2 separate regions of the Homo sapiens genome follow, and region 1 is linked to region 2. The links come from fine-mapping of genetic effects on gene expression. A gene starts in region 2. The other region holds a variant in brackets. All regions are shown on one strand. Distances are from middle to middle. Region 1 has its middle 100 kb from the start of LINC02998. Region 2 holds the start of SNX18 (sorting nexin 18).

Evidence for each region.
Region 1: its variant is fine-mapped to the expression of SNX18 in whole blood (INTERVAL, PIP above 0.99).

Annotation. Positions count from the first base shown.
Region 1 is chr5:54,639,399-54,647,741 of GRCh38, reverse strand. It overlaps a transcript of SNX18 not described here. Among named protein-coding and RNA genes, the nearest start is that of LINC02998, 100 kb to the left of the region's middle. RefSeq lists an enhancer at 7,656-8,230. The variant T/G (reference allele first, on the strand shown) is at 4,350.
Region 2 is chr5:54,513,063-54,521,405 of GRCh38, reverse strand. It overlaps SNX18 (sorting nexin 18), which reads right to left and starts at 3,647. Exons shown (of 2, transcript NM_001102575.2): 1 at 1,833-3,647. The coding sequence starts at 3,453. RefSeq lists an enhancer at 1,795-2,739 and silencers at 3,212-3,771, 3,652-3,893.

The DNA.
Region 1 (8,343 bases), 130 kb before region 2:
CTGTTTTCAACCCCTGCTGTTCAATTTGCTGTCATGAAGACAAGTAAATATCACTCATTTTCTGGGAATCTCCTCAATATTGCCCCCACAGCCTTCAGGATGATGACTTTGATTCTTGGATTGGAATACAGGGTTCTCTACGATCATGCCTCTGCCTACCTCCCCTTCCTCTCATGCCCCATTCACTACCAACTTCAACTGCTTATAGTTCCCAAACCATGCCAGGCTATGTAATATCTCTTTGCCTTTGCTCCACAGTCCTCTTTCCAGAATGCTCTGTTCTTTCCTCTCCTCTAGGTGAACACCTCTATACTTTTCAAAACTGAGATCAAGCATCACTCGTTAAAGAAAACTCTCCTGGGTCAGGTGTGGTGGTTCATGCCTATAATTCCAGCACTTTGGGAGGCCAAGGCGGAAAGATTGCTTGATGAGATGAGACAGAGATTTGAATTTATAGCCCAGTAAGGGCAATACGATCTTTTTCCTGCGTTTTAACTGTTGCACTCGGCATAGTACTCGGCATGTATTTGGCACTTAGTAAATGATTATTGAATAAATACAGATGTAAATGATGGTCTAATTCAGAACACTATATTGTTAAATATCCTGAATATATTTATTTAAGGCGTAGTTTGCAAACAAGCCATGTATTAGAACATCAGAATTTCACATGTGACAAAGCACGATCTGGTTCAGTGAGCCAAGTTGGTAATCTCCAGCCGATGACGAATTGCTCTTGAGACACTTGTTACAGGCAGCCTCAGGAAGAGGCACAGGCCATTTATACCGCTTCGAGCCGCCAGTCCCAGCTCTCTTGGAGAAAGGCAGCACAGCTGGGAGGGCTCACAACAGGAGGCCTGTTGAAAACAAGTCGTGGTTTCACCCTGTGTTTTGATTTCTGTTCAGGGAAGGGCACTTCCTCTTGCATTTGTAGGAGCCAAGTAACACATTCTGGGTGGAGGGAACTATGGTAGAAAGCCTAGTGTTGGACACATGAAAAGGTGGCAGCATCTTAGAACTGGCTAAACACATATCTTGGCATAAGAACTTGGGTGGCAGGCAACCAAGATTTGGGGAGTGCTTTTCCTGCATCATTTTCTGCTGGGATTGCAATATGAGGGAGGCCTTGTTGATGGGTGTAGTTTGTTATGGTTGGCAATACCTTCTGGTTAGTAGTGGTTGAGTGCTTGCTAACTTGTGAATTCTTCAGAAGAGAGTAGAATATAAAAAGCCTTCAAGCCTCTCCTGTCTCCCCCGCAATGCGGCTAACGCAGGGCAACCGGCAGCAGTGAGCTGTGGATCCAGGCACTGGCTAGAGAAGTTGACAGACCACGAACACGGGGCAAGCTGAGTCTTTCTGTTTCACTTCCGGCATGTTTTTCACCCACAGGGATATTTTGGTCTGTTTCAAAGAAGAGGAAATCAGCCCCTAGCAGAGTGTTTCAGAAAAGCAGCAGAAGAAAAGAAAAAAGATTAAAGCCATATCTCTTGGGGAGAGAGATAAAAATCTGGATTTTGTTTGAAACAATGTTTCCATTTCCAACACCTCAGGTCCATAAAAAGTAGGAGAAAAAAAGTCTTCTTGGGGTTTCAGCATGCACAGTGCATTTATTCTCTCTCTCATTTCTTAATTTGTCAGTTTCTTTCGCCAAGTACCAAATCCAGTAAATGTTCTTTAAATGGAAAGAAAAAAGCAATAATGAATGCCAGAAAAGTTTCCCAACCAGCCGGCCAAACCACAAGTATCCAAAAATGTGATTTCATTTTTAATAATACAGAAAACTGAGGAATATCAAGTAGAAATATAAAGAGAGGAAAAACATTGACTTATTCTAAACACCAATAAAAAGGATTTCCAACTTCAGAATGTTTGTAGAAGACATGAAGAGAAATAGCTAGTCAATGAAGGAATTCAGAACCCGGTGTTCACAAAATTAAGAAGATACTAGTGATCAATGAACTCTAAACACTCATATGGGTTTGCCTTCTCTGAATCCTTTGAAATTCACTCTCTATTCGGTGTCCAAATTTCCTGTATATGTAAAATGGAGCCAAGGAGCCCACATTGTGAACAGAGAAAGTAAAGATCGTGTAGGATGAAGACATTCGTGTTGTAACCTGTGTCTTTTATGCCAACTCTTAGAATTTAAGGAGCAGCTGGGGAGGCCAGCAGGCTGACTTAAGCCCACAAAGGATGGCCTCTGATCCCTGAAACTGGGGGAAGAAGCAAGATAATTCTTAACTACTCAGGTGACATCTCTTCCAAGAAGTTTTCTCTAACTTACTCCCTAGCCCAGGAGGGAAGGCTTAGACCCCTCATCTGTTTTCCCGGAACACCTGGGCATAGCTCTTATTGCATCCAAACGGTTCTTATAATGCAATGCAACACAATACACAGTATCTATATGTCTCCCTTGTTAGACCATGGAGTCTAGAGCAGGGATATCTTTACTTCTCTGGTGCCAGGTATAGTGGCTGGAACATCAATTACCTAATTGACATGAATGCTTTCTTTCTTTGTATCCAAATAACTCAGGGCATTTTAGTTGTTTTATCCTATGGTTATATCATTCTTACCATGTTTTAGTACCGGCAAATAGAATTCATTATTTCCCAGGATATATCAGTTAATAATTTCATAAACAGAGAAACTAACTACATCTGGAGCAGTGCTTCCCAAACTTTACTGTGCATGCAAATCACCTGTGGATCTTGCTACAAAGCCGATCGTCACTCATTTGGCCTGGGAAGGGGCCTGAGAAGCTGCCTTTCTAACAAGCTCCCAAGTGCTGCCAATGCTCTTGGTCCATAAAGTAAGAGTGGCTTGAGCCAGATAGAGTTTAATTTTGTTTCCTGAAAGTTAAGTCCAGAGATTAGCAGTCCAGAGCTTGTTTGGCAGTTCTGCCACATCATCATCAGCCCAGGCTCTTCTATCTTTCTGCTTTACTATCCTAGGTTCTGTTTACCCCAAGGTCTCCCCTTGTCCCAAGATAGCAGCTGCTACTCTAGCCATCACACCTATATTGTAGTCAGTAGAGAGGAGGACACACCAGGGCAAATGGCTGACAGCTGGGTCAGCCCCTTCTAAAGGAGTTGTCAGGAGGAGCCCATCTGACAACTTTCACTCCTATCTCACTGGCCAAAATGTAGTCACCTATCTAAAGGAAGGCTTGAAATGTGATTTTCCTGTTGGGAATATGTTGCTGATTACAACGAATTGAGTTTCTCTTAGGAAGAGGGGGAATGAATGCTGGGTAGATGCCAGCAATCTCTACTATGAGTCAGATGAGATTGTTGTGGATCACCTGTTACTCACCCGTGGTTAGTAACCTCTGGATTGTGCCCCATTCCTGAAGAGACACCAGTTACTCTGTTAAGGTCCATGCGAAACATCAGCTGTCTTTGTGACAAGTTCTGTCTCATAGGCTCCTTGACTGTACTTACTGACTAAAGCTATCATCACTCTTGGCTGTGAAACTTGAAGTAAGATGAGGGGACCAGAACTTCCTACCCTCGCTGCTGCCTCTTTGGAATAACATTAATTGTCAGAGCTTAGTTTGGCCCAGGCCTTATTTGCATCCTTGGGCTCTCGGATGCCAGGGAAACATGGCTACTGTGACAACAGATGAGATCCTGGCTCAAGGATGCTGGCAGGGTCTCTAGCTTATTGTCCCTAAGGTTATGGCTTATAAATAAGGGAATGAGTCCAAAGAGATGTGCTGTTCTTCTTGCTTGGTGCCAATCAGTTCATTCCTTGAGTAACAGTGGAGTCACCCAAAGTGAAGAAACAATTCCAGCCCACTGATTTCGGCCTGAGCACTCACGTTTTTTCCCTGGCTCTTTGCCCAGGATTTCCAGGGAGAAGGCAGGGGCCAAGAAGCAATATACATTCCTGAAAGGAAGGCTTCTTGAGTGATTAAAATGATGGTATCAGTCGGTGGCTCACAGGCAATGACAGAGAACACAGGCAGGGTGCCCTCTGAGATGCACCCCCTCATTTCCTGAGTCATGACGTGGAAGACAGGGAAAGTGCACATCAGCAACAACAGGAAAGGAAAAGGTAGTTGTTTGTTTTCCTTCCGTTCTCCTCCCATCTCAAGGAATTGATACCTCCAAAATTTCAATCTGAGATAACAAAAACAATTTGCAAATAGTCAATAAACAGTGCATTCATTCATTATTACTAGAACTACATTCATGGAAAATAATTTATATAAACTAACCAAAAGTCGTTTTTTAAAAAAGGTAATATGATTTATTTAGATGGGTTCAACCATCAGATTTTTGGGGGGAGGAGGGTAATCCATGAATCTATTTGTGTGCTAAGTATTGCTATAAATTGAATGTGT[T/G]TTTCACATCTATTTATTACTATTTTTCAAGTCCTATAGATGCAGTTTTGATTAGTAAAATGCAAGTTTATTTTAAGATGTGACTAAATTTTTATCTGAGAAAATACATTATGGCAAAAAGCAATAACTGGATACTAAAAATATAATGACCATTATGTGAGAGTATGTAGAATTCAAGTATTAAAAAAAGAAGTCCTCCTACCTGAACATGTTGGTGTAACTGAGCCCATATTCAGCTGCCCACTGCTTGAAAGTGAGCCACGAGAAACGAGGTTGGGAATGCCTTGTTATCCCCCCTCCCTTTATAGTTTAGACACAACAACAGCATTAATGTTAAAATAGAGATCATGAGACTGGCAGCACAGCCTGTGGCTATAAGATACCAAATCATAAACAGGACCTAAGGCCATGCCCGGCAAAGGTTAAGTCTCCACCCCAAGATAAACGTGTGTTACATGCATGTTTGTTCAGTACACATGTGTCAAGACCACCTTCATAAATATTTATAGCTACTTCTGTAACCCATTAAATATGTATGTTGAGCTGATCTATCATATACCCACAGGAGCCCTGGATACAATTGACAGTAGGGAGCAAATGTATTGATTTTCTTGCTGATATGGTAGGCCATTCCAGGTTTCTGCCCTGGTGTGAGAACCAACCGATGCTCTAAGAGATTTAACAATTGCCAAATATGTTAAGACGCTAGATATTATACTAACTTTTGTTTATAAGTTTGCTTCCAGCAGAATCATTTTTCCCATGGATATGGACCTGCATCCTTTTCAACTAAGAAATAGGTCCTCCTAAAGACCTGGAAGGAACAAGGGCCTGAACATCAGCTCACTGCCAGGTCAAAAAGTTTCATTCCACAGTTGCCCCACGTTGACCCTGTTTGGCAAGAAGTAGCCAGCTGAGAGATGACATCCCATTGTCCCTAATCCCACAAAATTGTGGAATGAGCCTTTGACAGTGGGGAATTGTAGCAGTGAAACAGCAAAAAAAAAAAACCCAACATAACTAATTCCATTTTTATTTAAGGGGCCTACACCCATTCCTGCACGTTTGCTAGGGTAATTTTAGAGCACTGAGATAATATACAAAAACAGCAATCAAATATTTTGTAAATCGAACTCTGGGATTAAAGAGGAAGTATATAAACAACTAATTATGTTTTGTTAAAGATTTACAGGAGCATTGTGACCCGACCAAGGACAAAAAAGTTCCCAGCCTCCTTCTCTCAGACCTTTCATGGTTCCTGATAGTTGGGGAATGATCCGCTGTGCTGCTGCTGTAGCATCAACGAATACATATACTTCATCAGCCTCCTCCATTTCTAATCTTAGTACTCAGGTCCGTCTCTCAGTCCCAGAGACACTGTCAGCCTTTTATTATAAAATCACTGTCTGATTTTTCAAGAAGTCCTTGAATAGCTCTTTAGTTAAGTAGATCTAAGGCAAGTAGCCACCAATCGTTTTGAAAGAAGTATGGAAGAGAATATTTTTGACTCAGCAAGGAACTGGGGCATGGCTGCTCTTGGTGGGAGGTGATAGGCAATGCTGCCGCGTTGCACCTCCCACCCGCACACGCATACATACACACATTCAGCACCCATGATTTTACAAGGGGCTAAGGAGCCTGCAGGAAAATGAGGTATAGCAAAGCGTCCTCCTCAATGTGACTCTATAGTTTCCCTGTCACTTACAGAATAATTCTTCTCAAGGGATAAAAATTTTTGTTGTGCTGTGAGAAATAGTAGATACTCAAAGCTCTTTGAAAACCTTTGTGGTGCACTCTCTGTAGTGCACGCTCAAAACCCTGAGTGCAGTGCCCTAAAGGTGTTCTTCTCTGTGGGTGGCTAGGTTTGTAGGAAGATCCCCAGCCTTCCCTCCACCACTCCTGGCAGAATGGCTCCAGCCCCATCCCACGCCAACTTCAACCAGAGAGCTCCTGTTTATTTTATGTGCTGAGATTCCAGACATAATTCTGTCAGTTTAAAAAAAAGACCTCTTTTAAATGCATTTTTGAAAGCTGCTGGTCTCTTGTATCCACTGAATTTGGGGAATATCACACACATACACATATAATATGTAATAATACAACATCTATGTAAAAATTTATCAGGATATGACAACAATACTGAAGCAGCAGTGGGTGGTGCACAGGTCACACCTGTGAAAGGATTGTCTTGCATTGTTCTGGCCTGACTCTGGTGAAGAACAAGGTGGTATCGAACCCCTGGGTGAGTCTCAAGAAAAGAAACAGAGTTACGGGACCATGTCAAGCTCTCAGAACTTCTGTATACTCCTTCCTGATTTTTTTTTTCTTTTTATGAGACAGATTCTTGCTTTGTCGTGCAGGCTGGAGTACAGTGGCACAATCTCGGCTCACTTCAATCTCCACCTCCCACATTCAAGCAGTTCTCCTATGTTAGCTTCCTGAGTATCTGGGACTACAGGCATGTGCCACCACACTCAGCTAATTTTTGTATTTTTAGTAGAGATGGGGTTTAACCATGTTGACCAGGCCGGTCTTGAGCTCCTGATCTCAAGTGATTCTCCCACCTCGGCCTCCCAAAGTGCTGGGATTACAGGTGTGAGCCACCACACCCAGCCTCCTGATTTTTTTTTTATCAACCTGATATGGATAGATTCCCAAGTCTTGATTACCCCATCCCCTTCTATTGAAGAGCCCTAGGAGAACCCTCTTTTGAGTTGCCCCCACAAGCTCTTTTACTCATTATGATGGTCAAAGAGAGGTTGTAAAGGGTGCACGATTTTATGAATCCCTTTTTAATCTATCCAGATGATCTCTTGCTGGGAATTACTATTTCGTCTTGTAGGCCAGAGCGTAAGATGAGACCCTACTCTGGCGGGCACAGTGGCTGATGCCTTGTAATCCCAGCAATTTAGGAGGCAGAGGTGGGTGGATTGCTTGAGTCTGGAGTTTAAGGCTAGCCTGGGCAACATGGCAAAACCCCATCTTTTTTTTAAAAAAAAGAAAGTACAAAAATTAGCCAGGTGTGGTGGCACATACCTGTAGTCCCAGCTACTTGGGAGGATAAAGCAGGAAAGTCGCTTGAGCCTGGGAGATGGAGGTTGCAGTGAGCCGAGATAGAGCTACCGCACTCCAGTCTGGGTGATGAGAGTGAAACCTTGTCTTACAAAAGAAAAAAAAAAAAAGAATCTATTTCTAGACAGTGATGAACTTTATTCCCCCATGTCATGGTCCTTGTAGCTTAAGGAGGTATTTGAGGTTAGGCTTCTCTGACCCTTTGCCCATTCTGCCAGGGGATAAGATATTGGACACCACACTGAAGTTAGATGTTGAAAATTGAGGTCCATAATCCCCGTATGTTCAGTCTCATTCACTTATCAAAGAATATTTCTAACTGGATCCCCAACAGAATCCTTACAATGGAGTGCCATCTCCATTGGCCTCAGGAACTGATGATTCTTTTAGTCCTTTCCTTATAGTGCGTGGGCCCACAGCTTACTTTCACTCATTGCCCACCTGGCTTTTGCTGATACATAATGCCCTTGCATAACCTCCTTGGTCAGCCTAATCACTTAACCCCAGGAGGCCCCTTCAGAAAATCTGCAAATCGCTTCTCTGAGTACGCTTGAGCGTAGCTTATTCAGGCCTAGATAAGCTTTGTTTCTTCAAGACAAAGCTTGTCCCTTTTGCTTCCAGCATAGACTCAGGCCATAGGACCCAAGTCTGAATTTTGGGTGCGTAACTTACTTTGAGCAAGTTACTATTTCTGGTCCTCAAGATTCTCGTGAAAAATAAAGATTAAAAATAGTCCTTACCTCCTAGCATTGTTTGAGAGTTAAATGAGTGAGGGCATTTTATACATTTAGACTATACTTGGCATATAATCAGCTATCAATAAATATTAGATAATATTATTTTGGCAAGAACTGGAAGTGACATTGGCTTTACCAAGTTCATTTGTCCATCTGTTCATTTGAAATGTATTTACTGATCCCCT
Region 2 (8,343 bases):
GACTAAGTAGACCATTGCTGTAAACTCAAAATAGATATTAGAACACACACCATACCTTTTCTAATATATAATTTCAAAAGCAGGCCATTTGACAAAGCCTGAGTGCATGGTGTGATTGACAGTGAATGAACTGATGCCAACCTAAAGTAGACAGACACCAGCGGCCCAGCACACATGTCCAAGTGTCTGTACTTGGTTCCATCCTTTCAACTGTTCACCAGTAATTTGCACAAACTCACAGAAATGTGTAAAAGGGCAGCCAGCATAGGTCCAGAATGATGTAACACAATGGAATTTAAATGCTAAATCCCTCCATTAAAGGCTCACAAAGGCAGTTCCACCAACACCAGTCAAAAAAGTCAAAGATTCATAACAATTTATGTTTTAAAAAAAGGCATAGGTAATGTAAATACAGGTTTAATACAGGCCAACAGCAATATGATTGCACAAAAAACGAATTCAATATTAGACTGCATTTACAAATCGCAAATTGCCAAGAAAGTTACTACTGTCTACTAAAATTAGTACTGATGTCCAGGGTACTCCCTTTCAGCGGCAGCAACAAGACTGAAAACGTTTGATCATTCTCCCAGCAAGCCCCTTCCCCCATAGGAGTCAGAAGACCAGTCACGCATTTGGAAGGGGAAGGAGAGAAGCAGAGAGGAAGGAAGCGAGACTGCTGTCTCCAAATGTCTGAAGGCGGTCCCAGGGAACAGAAAGACAATCAAGGGAGGCAAACTTCAGTTCAATACAAGAAAAGACATGCCAGAGATCAGGGTTGCTCATAAACGGACTGGCCCACCAGAAAGGCAGTGAGCACTTCACCAGTAAAGGCCAGACCCGCTGAGGAAACAGGGACAGTAGGTTTCCCTGCTCAGGAGTAGGTTTCCCTGCCCAGCCGCCCCTACACTGGACTTTCACAGGCAAGACTGCCTCCCTAACTCCCACACCTCCCCATTCTCTCAATCAAGGCATTATATGAGAATGCACATTAGTAAGAAATGTTAAGACAAGCACTACTGCTATATATTTTTTTAATTTGCAAATTCTGGTGCTTTAGCAAAGGTCAGAGACACTAACAACTATTAATAACTCATGAACTCTGATAGTTGGACAGCTAACTCACTGGGATACCAGCAACGCTGCTCTCAGATCCAATACTCAGATTATATTCATTCTATGTAGTTTCCCTAAACAATTTTCCTAAACAACGTTCTCAATTTCAGTACATTAATAGATTTCAAACTCAAAATGAGTACGCTTTTCCTGAAATTACTTCACTTCGTAAAGGTTGCAGGCAAGAATTCTTTGCAGGAATTTCTTAAACTCAGAGAATTGATCTTAATTCCTCTACCAAAGCAGAGATTGAGAGGTGTGGAAGGGTGAAAGCAGATTTCTATTTACAGACATCCGTTCTTCTCCATTATTTCCTCACTTTTTGAAACTCACCACTAAGTGACAGTGCAGTGTTCAAACAGATACCTAACATGGTTTAGGTCCCCTTCTAATTCTACCCTCGTCTCAAGATTACAGATTTGAGCAGCTCATTACTCAACTATTCAAACTCTAAAATGATAGCACTGTCATCAAAGGTACTCTTTGAACCTTCGAGAAAGAGTACTCATTCCCTAATGCAAGATACTCGAGGAGGAAGCTGCCTGTCGAGCAATCCAACTTACACTCTAGGGAAAAGACCCAGGCGTCCACGTCTCTGCTCGCTTCCTCACCTGTAGAATATGATTCTGAAACCCACAGTGGTACTGCTGTCAAAGTCGCCCCTTTCAGCCTGCACAATACACTCCATATCACCTGCTCTAAGGGCCAGGCTTTACCTTTCTGAACGTGGATGATGTCCGGGAAGTTAGCCAGATGCCCCTGATACAGCGCTAATAGGTCCATGACGGGATCCAGGTCCTGCCTGGGCTGCTCCGCGAAGAGCTCGCCAATGGCGTCATAGGCATCTCCGGTGAAGGCGATAGCCTGGTTCAGGCCCACCGAGAAGGCCTGCTGGTCCAGCTCAAAGGCCTGGCTGAGGCCGCGGAAGGACTGGCCCACCTTCTGATACTCCTTTTTGAAGCCGGTCACCTGCTTGCGCGCGAACTCGTTGGCCGTGTGGTTGAGCTGCAGCGCGCTGTCGTCCATCTTCTTGGTGAAGCACTTGAAGCCGTCGATCTTGCTCTCCACCTCCTGCAGGTCAAGGGCAGCGGCGGGGGGCGTGCTAAGGGTCAGGAAGAAGTTGGCGCCCACCATCTCGTCCTTCTCGGCCTTCCTCTTGCCCTGCTTCCAGGCTTTCTCGTCGGTGCTGCTGGGGCACGTCAGGAAGTGCTGGAAGACGTCGCACTGCGCCAGCACTGGGTGGCTGGCCATGTGGTTCATCCACCAGATCAGGCCCTTCCTGCGCTTAGAGATGAAGTCCTCCTCGAAGCGGCCGGTGGCCTGCTTCTCGGGCAGGTGGGGCACGGAGATGACCGGGAACTTCTCCGCCAGGCGCGCGTACAGCCAGTCGAAGTGCTTGTAGCGCCGATGCACCGGCACCTGCGTGTGCGTGGGCACCAGCTTGTAGGAGATGTAGCTCTTCATGCCCTTGAACTTGGTCTGCTTGGTGGGGTCGTCGATGGTGCACTGGAACGGGTAGGGGTTCTCCTGCCACTCGGGGCCATAGGGCCCCAGCACCACGCACAGCTTGTCCCCGTCCTTCACGAAGCCTGACGCCTCCCCCAGCACGAAGGCCTCCCCGCCGGACTTGACGAAGGTGGAGAAGCGATTGAGGTTGCGGCTCACGGTGGCCGAGCTCTTGGGCCCCGACGGGTGGTGCTGCGGGGGGACCGAGCCGCCGCGGGAACCCAGGGACAGGTCGGAGCGCGTGGACAGGCGGTAGCGGCCGGCTGCGCCCACACCCGCCGAAGACGAGCCGTCGAGGTCCGGGTATGCTCCGCTGCCCAGAGCGCCCGGCTCGTCCGCCACCGTGGAGCTGTCGTCCCACTCGTCGTCCCAGTCATCATCGCTGCCTTGGCTGGCCTGGTAGCCGCCGTAGAGCTGCTGAGGCGACGGCTGCAGGGCGCCCCCGCCGTACGGGAAGCCCGCGCCGGGCGGCTGGAAGGTGCTCGGAGGCGGCGCCTGCTGTGGCTGCAGCAGCGCCTGGAAGGCGTCAGGCGGCGGCTTGAAGGAGGCGGGGGGCGCGACAGGCAGGGGCTCGAAGCCCCCGGGGGGCACATTGGCGTAGCGGGCCGGGGCGCCCGGGCCGCCGTCTCCCGCCGGGCCAGGCTCGGGGGCGCGGATCACCTGCACATAGGAGGCCGGGAAGAGGCCGCGGTCGCCGCGGCTGTTGACCCCCTCGAGCCAGCCCTCGATGTCCTGCTCGCTGCACAGGCTCAGCACCTCGTGCTCTCGCAGCGAGATCTCTCCTGGGTTCTCCGACCTGAAGTCGTACAGCGCCCGGGCGCGCAGCGCCATGGTCCCGGCGCCCCGACTGGCGGTCCCGACTCCCGGCGTCCCGAGCCGAGGCCCACCTGAGGGGCCCGCGGTACTGCTCGAGCCCTGGCGCGCGGACTGGAGCCCCGAAGGCGGCAAACCCACGCTGCCCGGACCAGCCGGTCGCGCCCTCCGCGCGGCTCCGCTCGCAGCGCCTCCACTTCGCAGCGCCGACTGCCGCGCTGGGCCGCCGCAGCCGCCGCCGGTCGGGGGCGGGGCCCGCGGCCTCCCACGTCTCCAGCTGCGCTAATCCACGGCCGAGAGCCCCTTGCCAGGCGAGAGCAAGCGATGGCCGAGCCGCCGAGCCCACCGCCCGCGTCGGCTTTGCGGCGGCCACTGCCCTCTAGTGGCCGGTGCCGCGAAGCCGGGCGCCGTAGTGAGCGCGGCTGAAGGAGGTTTCTACTCCGAAGTGAATTATCTGAGATTTCTTTAGGCTTTTAAGTTAAACATTCTCTAGAAAGTAAGTTAGCATTTGCATGCCTGATAAACGTTCCCACTCTGAGCGCTCAGTGAATGCTCCTAGAATGGCAACCCAGTCATGTAATAAAGCATTTTGCAATGCGAATTAGTGATTGCACTAAGAAAACAGGATGCCTCTGCGGAGGAGCTGTTCACCTACAGAGCAGGCTCCCTTCCCTCTTCTGCTCAAGGAGAGGAGATTGGCAAGAACAAAGTAAGGGCCAGGGAAGGTGCTGTGATTGACAAAATTAGAAGCAAAGGATCATGTAGAGAGGGAGGAGCTGGAGAGTTTCCAGTACAATAAATGCTCACACATTTATTACATGCATGTGTCGCCTATCCTCCCATAGATATATGTAGTGCGGTGAATGAGAGCTCAAACTTCGGAGCCAGGCTTCTGAATTTCAATCTGTGTTCTGACACTACCTAGCTGTATGACCTGGAACAAGGCACTTATATCGTACCTACCTCCGGGGGTTGTTGTGGGGATTCCATCATAAAGTAATCCCTATTTTACAGATGAGGAAAGTGAAACAATATCTGGCAGGGTAAGCAGATTTGAAGGGTTTGTTGCTGCTTTTGCTGCTGTTACTGTTATTTGGGGGAAGCAAAATCCCTGGCCTCTTTCACAAAGGGAATAGGGGTACTAAACTAACAATTGCAGGGTACATGCACCAGGAAGCGTCCCAATGTTCACATTGCCACTCCTAGTAAGAGGTCAGTGACCATCCATCCATCTGTTGTCTCTATGTCTCACTATATTTATATTATTTTTAAGATAAATAGAACAAAAATCACTTCCTGAAATAATCAGCTCCAATCTATCGTTGCCTTGTTTCCTATCTTCCTTTCCTTCAGTGTATAATTTGCCCAAAGCTTTTTCTTCTCTTAATCCCCTCTTATTAAGTCTAGCCTAATTATTCCTTTGAAGACACTTCTAATTGAGGTTCTGCATTCATGTGTCATTAATTTCAGCCTGTCCTCTGACCCTTTTCAAGGAAACCTGGGAAACGGGCCAGAAGAGTGTACAATTATTCTAAGGGCTGTGGTATTGTAAGCATCTTGCACAAAAACACAAACCCACTATACCAGAATCACTCCCACAGTGTTTATCCTAATGCAAAACCTTAATTCAATTCAGTAAGCATATTCTAAATTACATTTTTAGCTGAAAATTCTGGGTTTTGACTATTCTCACAGTAAGCAACAGGGATCATTGAATTTCAATGCCAACATTTCATGTGGTCAGAAACATGAAGTCCACATTAACTAAACCTCTAGAATATGACTCATTTTACTTCTGAAAAGCTAACCTAGAATATGTAAGATAAATAAATTTAGTTTCGCCCCTTCTGTTCGTTTAGTAGTTACTTTTTAGATTAGAGTTAAGTACAGTAACTTTGGGCTTATTTCAGGTGTGAAAATTCCAGGAGTTTAAGGTGATGATTTTTTACAGACTGGTTGAGCTACTCTGTAGAAATGGTGGTTGAGGAATTATTGGGTGTCCAAGGTTGTTTGTAGCACTGGGGCATGGGCGTCTGCAGGTGCTTACTTTGTAGGAGTCCAGTGGGAGGCCTCTGTGCTTGCCGCGCATCAGGCTTCCAGAAGGATGAGGACAGGCTGTCATGATGTTTGGCCCTATGGCCACTAGTGGCAGGAAAACCCCTACCTCTAGAGGGTCTTAGATATGTAGAAAATTGTGCTCCAGTATTAACAACCTATAACTGTTCACTCAGGGAAATAGATACAGTAACACATTTTGTAAAGATTTCTCTAGAAAATGGAGCATATTATTCACAGTTTAGTTTACACAATCATTATAACCACCCATATGCTTCTGTAAAGTTTTTAGGGGACACTAAATGACCCCAAACAATTGCATTTTCTTACTTCCTCCCTTGGCCTGAGAGGCCTTAGATAGCCTGGCCCTTGGCTATCTTTCCAGCCCCCTTTTCCACTGAAAGAAGCCACAGTGGTTGCTTTGCTATTTTTGGGACAAGTCAAGCACGTTTCTTGCTGAAGTTTTTGCCTTCGCTTTTCTCTCTCCCTGGAGCCCTCTTCCCCGGGAGATCCACCATGCCACATCATCGCTTCATTCGGTCAGAACCATGGGGCTTTCCATCCCTCCTTTCTTCTCCTTCCTTGGAGATACCGGAAGACAGAGGGAGCCTGGGTCCCTGAGTCACCGACCCCAATCATACTTTGTGAGAGAAAAATCCTTTGTCCGACTAAGCCACTGAAATTTCAGAGATTGCTGAGGCAGCTGGTACTAATTATGCTAATATAATCTCCCTCCCTCCCTCCCATCCCCTGTCCATCCCACAGTCTCACTTTTCTTTGTAGCAACTATGACCTAAGATAAACACGTCTATACATTAACGGCCTCCCCTATTACAACATAAACCTTTTCAGGGCAATGAGGTTTTCTGAGCACTGAGGATATAGCAATGAACAAAACAGACATGTTAGGCAACCAGTTAGTATTTGTTAGATGAATGAAAGAATGTCCACTTACATCCTCCCTAGATGAAGTCAGCTCTCTCCAGTAGCTCTTATTGTGTCTGGGTCAGCTTGCCTGGTGCCCTCTGCCACCCAGCTGTAACTGTTTCTAAGGCAGCTAAGTAACACTCCTCTTTAAATCAACAACGTTAAAGGTAACACAACCACCCAGAACACCACTGCAAATTTTCAGATTGTTAGAAATTTCACTATTACAGAGTGGGTCATTATTAAAATTAACACTATATTTTACTTGAAAACACTCATGTAATGCATCAAGCATTACACAAATATGTACATATGATTTTAGATGCACTTACACCTTTCCTGTGTTATTTCCTGCCGTATTTTCACACCAACTCATCCATGCATGGAGCAGATATTGCCATCCCCACTATCCCAGATCAGGACAGCCAACTGCAGAGAGGGTCGTCTGCTGAGGTCAGGTGACTGAGGAATGACCCAGCAGCTACTCAGCTGTCCTGAGAACTTCGGTTCACTGTGTCACAGGTCTGCACTCTGCTGGCGCCTCAAAACTACTACTATTATTAAACAGCATCCAGGCCCAGCACAGTGGCTCACACCTACATATATATGTTTTATGTATATAAAAATTTATATATACAATTTTTTATTATTTATATATTATATATTATATATATTTTATATATAATATATAAAAATTTATATATACTATATTAAAATTTCTATATAATATATAAATTTATATATATCATATATATTTATATAATATATAAATTTATACATATGATATATATATTTATATATTATATAAATATATATATCATATATATTTATATATTATATAAATTTATATATATCATATATATTTATATATTATATAAATTTATATATATCATATATATTTATATATTATATAAATTTATATATATCATATATATTTATATATTATATAAATTTATATATATCATATATATTTATATATTATATAAATTTATATATATCATATATATTTATATATTATATAAATTTATATATATCATATATATTTATATATTATATAAATTTATATATATCATATATATTTATATATTATATAAATTTATATATATCATATATATTTATATATTATATAAATTTATATATATCATATATATTTATATATTATATATTTATATATTATATAAATTTATATATATCATATATATTTATATATTATATATTTATATATTATATAAATTTATATAATATAAAAGTTTATATATTATATATAAATATATATTATATATAAATTTATATATTATATAAAAATATATAATATATATAAATTTATATATTATATATAAATATATAATATATAAATTTATATATTATATATAAATATATATTATATATAAATTTATATATAAATAAAAATTATATAGGTATACATTTTATACATATGCGTGTATATATGTGTACACACACATGCGTGTGTATATGTGTGTACACACACATATGCACACACGTATATGTAATATTGTTTTATACTTTATATATTTTATATATTATAAATAAAGTAAAATGAAGAGCAACAGCCATTTACTAGAAGGTTTGTAGCTAGGCTTAATAGAAAGCCTGGCTCAAGCCTGCACTCCCAGCACTTTGGGAGGCCAAGGTGAGTGAATCACTTGAGGTCAAGAGTTCGAGAACAGCCTGGCCAACATGGCAAAACCCTGCCTCTACTAAAAATACAAAAAAATTAGCCATGCATGGTGGCACACACCTGTAGTCCCAGCTACTCAGGAGGCTGAGGCACGAGGATCGCTTGAACCCAGGAGGTGGAGGTTACAGTGAGCCAAGATCATGCCACTGCACTCCAGCCTAGGCAACAGAACAAGACTCTGTCTCAAAAAATAAACAAATAAACAAATAAATAAAAATTAAAAATAA